Linked DNA regions of Homo sapiens: region 1 is linked to region 2. The links come from fine-mapping of genetic effects on gene expression. A gene starts in region 2. The other region holds a variant in brackets. All regions are shown on one strand. Distances are between the middles of the regions.

The links. PIP is the estimated chance that this variant, and not a neighbour inherited with it, causes the effect. A credible set is the group of variants that fine-mapping cannot tell apart.
Region 1: its variant is the best candidate, but not a certain one, in a credible set for the expression of UROD in monocytes after LPS (Fairfax 2014, PIP 0.66).

What each region holds. Positions count from the first base shown.
Region 1 is chr1:45,291,301-45,296,670 of GRCh38, reverse strand. It overlaps LOC105378691 (a long non-coding RNA gene), which reads left to right. Exons shown (of 3, transcript XR_947287.4): 3 at 1-859. Among named protein-coding and RNA genes, the nearest start is that of LINC01144, 9.9 kb to the left of the region's middle. The variant AG/G (reference allele first, on the strand shown) is at 2,002.
Region 2 is chr1:45,009,363-45,014,732 of GRCh38, reverse strand. UROD (uroporphyrinogen decarboxylase) reads right to left here and starts at 2,479. Exons shown (of 10, transcript NM_000374.5): 1 at 2,448-2,479; 2 at 1,714-1,826; 3 at 1,518-1,597; 4 at 1,379-1,441; 5 at 942-1,139; 6 at 663-824; 7 at 157-294. The coding sequence starts at 2,467. It overlaps HECTD3 (HECT domain E3 ubiquitin protein ligase 3), which reads left to right and starts at 3,409. Exons shown (of 21, transcript NM_024602.6): 1 at 3,409-3,844; 2 at 4,027-4,187; 3 at 4,440-4,532; 4 at 4,612-4,747; 5 at 5,050-5,165; 6 at 5,251-5,364. The coding sequence starts at 3,476. RefSeq lists enhancers at 436-972, 2,383-2,512, 2,553-2,602 and silencers at 3,363-3,492, 3,573-3,742.

The DNA of each region.
Region 1 (5,370 bases), 280 kb before region 2:
TTGACTGTCTTCTTGCTGTGACCTCACTTGGCAGAAAGAGGGCTAGAGAGTTCTCTGGGGGCCAGGCACTGTGGCTCACACCTGTAATACCAACATTCTGGGAGACCAATGCAGGAGGATTGCTTGAAGCCAGGAATTCAAGACCAACCTGGGCAACATAGTGAGAACCTGTAGTTCCAGCTACTTGGGGGCTGAGGCAAGACCATCACTTGAGGCCAGGATTTCAAGGCTGCAGTGAGCTATGATAGTGCCACTGCACTGCAGCCTGGGTGACAGAGCAAGACCCTGTCTCTAAAAAAATAAAAACAAAATAAGAAGAGAGTTCTTTGGGGGTCTCTTTTGTAAGGGCACCAAACACCTAATCACCTGACCTAATCGCCTCCCAAAGGCCCCATCTCCTAATACATACCTTGGGGGTTAGGATTTCAACATAAGAATGTTGGAGGACACAAACATTTATTCCATAATAAGGACGTTTGCTGAAGGCCTTCTGGGAAAGGTTTCCTCACCCCTAGGTGAGAGTGATGTAAACAGAAGTATCTCTTTTTCCCGGGAATGTTGTTAAGTCTGAAGGTGTCCTGGAACTGCTGCAGCTGTTTTGCTAACACCTGAGGATGGAGCCAACAGTAAAGGTGGCAGAGCGGAGAGATGGAAGGAGTCTTTGCCTTTAAGGGCACTCGATCTGCCAACCCTGGAGGCCACACTAACGCTGAATTTCCTCACACAAGGGAAATTAAACATTGTCACTGTTGGAGCCATTGCCAGTGGGTTTCTGTTATAGCAGAAAGCATGTTTATTGTTACAAACAGAGCAGCATTCAGACTTTTGTGGGCCCCTTCCTATGTAAACTTTTTATTTATTTATTTTTTTGAGACAGAGTCTCGCCCTGTCATACAGGCTGGAGTGCAGTGGCGCGATCTCAGCTTACCACAACCTCCGCCTCCCGCGTTCAAGCGATTCTCCTGCCTCAGCGTCCTGAGTAGCTGGGACTATAGGCACACGCTACCATGCCTGGCTAATTTTTGTATTTTTAGTAGAGATGGGGTTTCACTATGTTGGCCAGGTTGGTCTTGAACTCCTGACCTCGTGATCCACCCACCTTGGCCTCTCAAAGTGCTGGGATTACAGGCCTGAGCCACTGTGCCCGGCCTGTAAACATTTTTTTAAAGTTATATTTTATGACTGCATTAGCACAAAGATAAATTATATTAATATTATTTATTAAAACATCTTCTTTGCCAGGCGCAGTCAAGCCTGTGGTCCCAGCTACTTGGGAGGCTGATGCAGGAGGGTCACTCAAGCCCAGGAGTTTGAGGCTGCAGTGAGCTATCATCAAGCCACTGCACCCCAGCCTGGACAACAGAGCAACTCTGTCTCTTAAACAGGCTGGGTGCAGTGGCTCACGCCTGTAATCCCAGCACTTTGGGAGGCTGAGGCAGGCAGATCACTTGAGGTCAGGAGTTCGAGACCAGTCTGGGGAACATGGTGAAACCCCGTCTCTACTAAAAATACAAAAATTAGCTGGGTGTGGTGGTGTGCACCTGTAATTCCAGCTACTTGGGAGGCTCAGGCAGGAGAATCACTTGAATCCAGGAGGTGGAGGTTGCAGTGAGCCATGATCATGCCATTGCACTCCAGCCTGGGTGACAGAGCGAGACTCTATCTCAAAAACAAACAAACAAACAAACCAAAAAACTTTTGACTTAAAAGTTTGTTTTTTCTTCTGATTTAAAGGGAATTGTATTAGGGTGCTCTTGCACTGCTAGAAATTCCTCCAGCCTGGGCAACATGGAGAAACCTCATCTCTACCAAAAATTACAGAAAAATAAAAAATTAGCCAGTTGTGGTGGTGTGTGCCTGTAGTCTCAGCTGCTGGGGAGGCTGAGATGGGAAGATTTCTTGAACCCAGGAGGCGGAGGTTGCAGTGAGCTGAGATTGTTCCACTGCACTCCAGCCTGAGTGACAGAGCAAAATCCTGTCTCAAAAAAAAAAAAAAAAAAA[AG/G]AAAGAAAGAAAGAAAAAGAAATACCTGAGACTGGGTGATTTGTAAGAAAGGAGTTTTGGCTGGGCATGGTGGCTCATGCCTGTAATCCTAGTACTTTGGGAGGCTGAGGCAAGAGGATCACTTGAGCCCAGGAGTTTGAGACCAGCCTGGGCAACATGGCAAGATCCCATCTCAATTATTTAAAAAAATGAAAAAGAAAAACAAAGAAAAGAGGTTGAATAGGCTCATGGTTCTGCAGGCTGTACAGGAAGCATAGTGGTATCTACTTCTGGGGAGGCCTCGGGAAGCTTCCAATCATGGTGGAAGGTGAAGGGAGAGCAGGCCCATCACATGGTGAAAGCAGGAGCAAGAAGGCGGGGTGGGGCGGGGGAGGTGCCACACACTTTTAAATGACCAGATCTTGCAAGAACTCACTCACTATTGTGAAGACAGCACCAAGAGGATGGTGCCAAACCATTCATGAGAAGTTCACCCCCATGATCCAATCACCTGCCACCAGGTCCCACCTCTAACACTGGGTATTACAATTTGACATGAGATTTGGGTGGGGACAAACATCCAAACCATATCAGGAATTAAAGCATTTTTGTCAGCCCTAAAAGTCCTGGGGCACTCATGTCTCTACTGTGCTTAGCGGATGGGCTGGTCCTGGTTACAGCTCCCAAATATGTACTCAGGCCCACACCTCTGTTTTGACCTTCGAGCTCCCATGTCCAGCTGTCTTTTGGATAGTTCCCCTTTGGTGTCTTACTCAAATCCAACATGTCTCAAGCTGAACACAGTTTCCCCCAAATCTTTTCTTTGCCCAGCATCCCCTATCTGAGTGAAACATGTACCACCCAGCTAGTTGCACCAGCCAGAAACCTGGACCTCAACCTCTCCCTCACCCTGTAGCCGTGTCCAGTCACCAAGTGCTGCCAATTTTCTCTCTTACATGGCTCTTGAAAGCATCCACTTCTTTCCATTTTCACTTCTGTCTCTACTGCTGTTGTCCTAATCCGCGTTACCAGCGTCTCTTGCTTGGATTACCACCGTCTCTTGCTGGGATTACCACCATGGACACTAATGGTCTCCCTGCCTTTCACTTGCCCTGCAATCATTTATCTACACTGTCCCAGAAGAATCTTTTCCAACTGCTTAAAACCCACTGATGACTTTACTTCATTATTTCTCTGTTTAAATCCAGCTGATGGCTTCCTGTTGCTCTTATAACAGAGATCCAAAACTTCAAGGAGGTCTCCAAGGCCTTGTCTAGCCTGGCCTCTGCCCCTCTTGCTCTGCTCTCTTACCCAGCTTCAGCTACATGATCTTCTCTCAAACACACAGGCTCCCTCCTGGCACAGGACCTTTGCACATGATACTCATCTTAGTCCGTTTGAGCTGCTATAAGAAAATACCATAGACTGGGTAGCTTATAGAACAAAAGAGCTTTATTTCTTACAGTTCTAGAGGCTGGGAACTCCAATATCAGGGTGCTGGCAAATTTGGTGTCTGGTGAGGGCCCTCTTCCTGTTCACAGATGGCGCCTTCTTCCTGTGTCCTCACATGCTGGGAGGGCACACAAGCTCCCTTGAGCTTCTTTAATATGAGCACTAATCCCATTCATGAGGAACCCTCATGATCTAATCTCTCCCAAAGCCTCCACCCCCCAATACCTTTCACCTTGGCAGTTAAAATTTTAACATATGAAACTTAAGGGACACAAACATTCAGACCATAGCAATATTCTTCTATTTTCTACTCCTTCAGCTCAAAGCTTCTCAAGGAAGCTTTCTCTAGTCTAGGTCAAGTATCATTAACTATGTGGCATTAGGCAAGTTTCTTTTATTTATTTATGTATTTAATGAGACAGGGGCCTTCCTCTGTCGCTTAGGCTGGAGCGCAATGATGCGATTGTGACTCACTTCAGCCTTGAACTCCTGGGCTTAAGTGATGCTCCTGCCTTGGCCTCCCAAGGTGTTGGGAATACAGGTGTGAGCCGCTGTGCCTGGCATAGGGAAGTTTCTTTACTGTGTGGTGCCTTCGTTTTCTCATCTGTAAAATGAAGATATAATAATGCCTAACTCACAGGTTTGTTGTGAGGATTAAATAGAATGTCACATGGGAACTGCTGTGAGGGTAGCTGGTGCAGTGCCTGCTTGCCTAGTTGTCCTGGCCCCTGGCTAGCTCTCTAGAGGGGGAAAGTGGTGGAGAGATCCCTCCCAATTAACACTAGCTGGAGATGTTGGGCTGATACAGGTTCTAAAATGTGAGGATTTCAGGGAAGAGCATCTCTACAAGGGCACAGAAGATTTCTGAGTTACCTGAGTGAAAGCAAAGAGCTAATTGTGCCAGAGAGTCATTGACAATGCCTGGGGTTGGGCTAGGGTACTCGGAGAAAGAGGTCAAGAGAACTCACAAAGGTCAGGGAGAGAGAGGAGGTGAGTGGGAGTACACCACATTTCTGTCAAATCTCTGAGTAGCCCAGAGCCCTGGAAGGAAGGGCCCTGGTTGCCACAGGGTCTCTATGTCAAGAAAACCTGGGCTGTCATCCCTAGCCTGTCATTTATGAGCTGGAGGAGGGGGAAAGTCATGTCACTTCTCTGTGTTTCAGTTTTCTTACCTATAAAATTGAGCTAATGATTGACTTTGTGGGGTCGGTGGGAGGATTAAATGGGGCTATAATAGTTTGCTGGGGCTGCCTAATGGCTTGAGCTGAGACGTTGGTCTTCTCTGGCCCTTAGACTGGGACTTACACCATCAGTGCTTCTGGTTCTCAGGCCTTTGGACTAAAGCTGAAATCTATATCACTGGCTTTCCTGGGTCTCCAGCCTGCAGATAACAGATCATGGGACTTTGCAGCCTCCATAACTGTATGAGCCATTTCCTTATAATAAATCTCATTGTACTCTCTCTCTCTCTCTCTGTATATATCTGTGTATATATATATATATATATATATATATATACACACACACACACACACACACACACATACATACACACACTATGCCAGGCCATGTTTTGTTTCTTCTGATCTACAGACGATTAATTGCCTATTTAATATTGATTTTTTCCCTTCTTAGTTAGGGAAAATTTGCTGGCCACATGTCTAGAGGAAAAATTTTACATTCTAACCTGTCTTTTAGATAGGGTGGCCAATGAGCTATAAGCAGTAAGGCTTCCAGAAAAGCCCTTTAACTTTAACTTTAACTTTCATCTTCCTGCCCAGAACTATGATATGATGGCTGGAGTGCCAGTAGCCACATTTTAACCTTGAAGATAGAAGCTGCTTAAAGAATGGTGAAGCACAAAAATAGAATCCTAGGTGACTTTCTAGAGCATACCAGTCTTAGACTGCCTGCCTCTGGAATTCTCTTATGTACAA
Region 2 (5,370 bases):
GAAAAAAGCAGATCTCAGGCTACAGAGGGCCTTGCTACAACCACTAATCTTTCTTGACTGTACTTCTGCTGCCCTCCAGTGGTCACTCCAGTCCATGCAGGACTTAGCCTGAAAGCTCCACAGGACCACCTTCACTCAACCCATCCCAATCCTCACCATGGGCACTGGTGCCAGGCCTGCCTCCCGCAACCTGGCCTTCACTTGCTTGGCCACATCACGGATGTAAGGCAGTGCAAACTTGTTGAAGAGCTGTGGGCCAAGATGCCCTGCATGGGACTCAAACAGCTGCAATGCCTAGTTAGGGTATGGTGAAGAAAAATATGTAACACACAAAGAGGAAGTTTCCCCCACATACAAAATCCACCTCAATTTTCCCCAAATGACTTCAATCCCTGATACTGCCTGACCCTAAAAACCCAGTAATTAAAAAAAAAAAAATTTACTTTCCTCAGATCCCAGCACTAACTTTGGTGTCTGAATACTTAGAGCATTAAGCCCCACTGTCAGTGTCAGGATGGGCTTGGCTGCTCCGCTAGATCACTGGAGGCCAAGGTTCTTTCATCCCTGGCATTAAGACCCCTGCCCTCTCAGGTTTAGGACACTCTTGCTTCTGGTCCTTACAGACCAAATCCCAGCCTATTTCTCTCTCTCTCAGGACTCACCTGGGCACCAGCCACCACTTGTCCTACCAGATATGGGACCAGAGCATCAGTGAGGATGCGAAGCAGCTGGTGACTAGCCTGAGGTCTCTGATAGAGCCAGCGCTTGGCCTGAGCCATGGTGCTTGAGCCACCACCCTCAACCATGTATGTCATCAGGGTCCACTAGAGAAGGATAGAAAGATGGTGTCACAGAAGCCAGACTGACCCTTCCTTTTGTCTACCCCAGACCTTCCAGAGTGATCTCCCCGCGCCCCGAGTCCCTGCCCTGTCCCACATTACTGGGGCACCAGCAAAGCCAATCAGCGGCACACGTCCAGCCAGTCGTTGTCGGGTAAGGGTGATGGCTTGGAACACATAGCCTAGCTCAGAGGCTACCACTTCTGGATCCCGTAGGCGTTCTAGGTCCTGCTCTTCTCTTAATGGCTCTGGGAAGCTGGGTCCTTTGCCAGGTACCATGGTCACCTCCATGCCCAGTGCCTGGAGGGGGAGAAAACATCTGGGTTCCCAAAATGGAATCCAGGAGGAAAGGTTCTGTTCAGCTCATTCCAGGAGGAAGGAAAAGGAGAATAAAACTCTGCCAAACTCCATTTCTTTCAACCTTAGTTTTTCCCTCGATCCAGTTAGGATAAGTGCTTATTGTAAACCTTGACTGGACTGATAGAAGGATTTTCAAGGCGTCCTTGGATTATATTCTAGGATCAGGTTTGAGTGGGTACCTGGGGTACAACAAGGATGTCGGAGAAAATGATGGCAGCATCCAGAGGGAAGCGACGCAGTGGCTGTAGGAAACAGGAGACAGGTTGCTAGGTGGCAGACTGAAGGCATAAATCTTTCCCTCTTTTGTGGACCCCTCACCTGCAGAGTCAGTTCACAGCAGGCCTCAGGAGAGCGACACGTGCTGAAAAAGTCCTGGGCAGCCCGGGTTTCCCTAAACTCTGCATACAGAGGGAAGACAGGGCTCAGCCTTGAGGCCCTCCAGAGCCCTCCCCTGCCCCTCGAAAACTTTTCTCCCTCCGGAGTTTTATCTAGATTTCCAGACCCTGACTCTTACCTGGTAAGTAACGGCCTGCCTGGCGCATGCACCAAACGGGAGTGTAGTCTGTTTCCTCTCCCCAGGCTGCTCGCAGGAATGTGTCATTCTTCAGCTCCGGAAAACCCTGAGGTCTGGCGATCAGGTGGGGGTGGGGGTAGGTGTCAGTATGCTACGCTGGAGGCTGGGGAAAGCGCGGGTTCATAAGGCCGATTCAGTCCAGGACCGCTATCTACCTCCTCCAGGCCAGCTCCCAAACCCTGGCTTTCCGCCCGTTCCGCCTCCTCTCTGCCTATCAGGTGGTGCACAAACTCCAGAAGGGCCCGCCCTGGGGCCTCTTCCCTCCACTTAGTCTCTACTCTTCCAAGCTCGAAGCAACCAGAGGGACTGGGGGGAGGGAATGAAGGCCCACTAAGGATAGTTTGGGGGTCTTCGAACTAGTGAGCCTCAGAAACGGGAATGTCACTGGGCTGGTTCAGGGGCTGAGAAATACCCAGGCTGGGGGATAAAGAGGGATCAGAGTTGATGGTCCCAGAATAGAGATCCTGGTTGGAAATCCTGAGGCATCCCTTGAATTAAGGCCCTGGGATGAACATCTCAAAAATCCATGGTTTTAGGATTCAGGATCCCAGCTAACGGAGTTCAGGTTGGGAGGTCTCCAGGGTGGGGAAAGGGGAGTAGAGGGATAGAGTCCTGAGTTGGAAGACTCAAATTAGAAGCCCGGCTAGCCACACCGCGTGCTCTGGAGAACTCACCCCAACCCATTCGCTTCCATGGTCAGCTGTCTGTAACTGCGAGCTCAATCCACAATTTAACCTGAATCTGAGCCTGCCCCCCAGTCCAGGCTCCGCCCCTTTCTGTAGGGAACCAAGAGCGTCGCCATGTTGAAGATCACATGATCGGACTCCAGCGACAGCTCCAGGGCTGCCCTGGCTGCTGCCCGTAGGACCCCTACCTTTTTTCACCGTAAAGTTTGCTGTAGCGACGCAACAACAAAGGCCCAAAAGAAAACTCCGCTGTAAATGTATCTTACGGTGACATGAGGAATTTGTTCTCATCTGACAGTCTGGGTATCCGGAGGCTTGGCGCAAGTCCCACTCATGATACCAACAGTCTTATCCAGCCAGGTCCATACTATAGCCTGGACCTATAGTAGGTGCAGAGGTTAGCTCTGCTCAAGACAGCCCCAGCCTTTAAGGAGCTACAAGACTGGGGAAACAGAAATCAGCAATCACATTAAAATGAATAATGATCTCCAGTGTCCTTGGGATTAGGAGTGACAAACAGAATCAACCCTAATGACTCAAGACTCCTGTCAGTGGCAGGGGAAGGGGCCATTGTCTCAAACACTTTAATCACACCACCCATAGGATAGGGAGTCCAGCAGATTCGCTGGGAGTGGGAGGAAAAACAGCAGGCCGAAGAACCAGAAAAATGACTGTTGGCAATGACCCAGGCTAGCTAGAATGGTGACTTGAATGAGGGTAGTAGCAGTAGAGATAAAATGGTAGTCACAAGGAAATGGAGAGAGGGAGATTGATCAGGTAGCAATCACCAATCTTGGGTTTGGTCGGCTGGGTTAGGGTGGCACAGAGATAAGTAATATGGTTGAGTGTGGGAGTACACAGTCCAATACAGTGAGAGCTGGGGTGCGCTTAGTCCAGAACATACGGCAAAGGCTGGCCAAAGGCGGGGAAGGGCGTGGTGGGAAGCTCTGTCCGCGGTCGCGCCAGCTGTTCCCCGGGCAGGGTCGCCTCTAGGTGCTCACCTCCGCCACTTCGCCATGGCGGGTCCTGGCCCGGGCGCGGTGCTGGAGTCCCCCCGGCAGCTGCTGGGCCGCGTGCGCTTCTTGGCAGAGGCAGCGCGGAGCCTCCGCGCCGGGCGGCCGCTGCCAGCAGCGCTGGCTTTCGTGCCGCGAGAGGTGCTCTACAAGCTTTACAAGGACCCAGCGGGACCGTCGCGCGTGCTTCTGCCGGTGTGGGAGGCAGAGGGCCTGGGGCTGCGTGTGGGCGCCGCAGGCCCAGCCCCCGGTACCGGCTCCGGGCCCCTCCGCGCCGCCCGCGACAGCATTGAGCTCCGGCGCGGCGCCTGCGTGCGCACCACGGGCGAGGAGCTGTGCAATGGCCACGGGCTCTGGGTGAAGCTGACAAAGGTGCGCTCTTCCCTGCCCAGGACCCGGTAAAAGACCCCTGGGGCCAGAGAAACCTCTGGCTGTTTGCCTTTTCTCCCCTGTATTGAGTTGGCATTGCGTTCGGCGCCCTTTGCCCTGGGCTGGGCACGACAGGCGGCTGGGCAGTTCCCTGACGGCTGTCCCCATCCTACGCGTCCCGGCAGGAGCAGCTGGCAGAGCACCTGGGCGACTGCGGGCTGCAGGAAGGCTGGCTGCTGGTGTGCCGCCCGGCGGAGGGCGGAGCCCGCCTGGTACCCATCGACACTCCCAACCACCTCCAGCGGCAGCAGCAGCTCTTTGGCGTGGATTATCGGCCGGTGCTCAGGTACTGCACTTGAAGGAGCGGGGCTGGCTGTCAGAAGGCCGGGCCAGGAGGGCTTGGGAACACTTCAGCCACAGCCTGGGGTGGGTGGGATACTGGAGCGGAGGCAGGGTTAAGAGCAGAAAGGGGCGGGACGTGAAGGGGGCTCGGAGGGAGACTGGGAGATAGAGCCCTGAAGAAGGCTACACGGCATGGAGGTAGTGTCTTGCTGACCGCTGATGTCTCCCCATCCCACTCCCTACTCTGTGCCCACAGGTGGGAACAGGTGGTGGACCTGACATACTCACATCGCCTGGGATCGAGACCTCAGCCGGCAGAGGCATACGCAGAAGCTGTACAAAGGCTACTGTGAGTGAGCTGGAATGGGGTGGGGAGGAAGGAGCTCTGCGTCTGGGCCCAGTCTAATTAGGGGCTTGGGGTTGCTTAGCTATGTACCCCCGACATGGACCTACGAGTGCGACGAGGACCTGATCCACTTCTTGTATGACCACCTGGGCAAGGAGGATGAGAACCTGGGTAGCGTGAAGCAGTATGTGGAGAGCATAGACGTTTCCTCCTACACGGTGGGTGCTGGGGCTCCTCCCACCCCAGGCAAGATATAGTCACACCCCTCAAGGCTAGATCCAGAAAGAACCCCCACCTGCAGGCCAGGACTAAAACAGGGTCCCCACAGGCCACACTCAGTTCAGCTCCCCATCTTGGACGTCTATAGGACCCCTTACATACCCAGCGGCCCCCTATCCCATACCAGTTGCCTGTTAGCCCAACTTCACTATGCTTTCTCTCTGGTGCTCCTGGCCCAGAGCACAAGCCCAGTGCAGGGAGGGAGGGTAACTGCTGACTTCACGTCTCTGCCCCTCCCCAGGAGGAGTTCAACGTGTCCTGCCTGACAGACAGCAATGCCGATACCTACTGGGAGAGCGATGGGTCCCAGTGCCAACACTGGGTACGGCTTACTATGAAGAAGGGCACCATTGTCAAGTAAGTAGGCTCTGGGCAGGACAGGGTGGGTGGGCTATGTCCCTGTGGGTTCACAAAGACTCATATTCACACTCTGACCCTTCAGGAAGCTGCTACTCACAGTGGATACCACAGATGACAACTTTATGCCAAAGCGGGTGGTGGTCTATGGGGGTGAAGGGGACAACCTGAAGAAGCTGAGTGACGTGAGCATTGACGAGTGAGC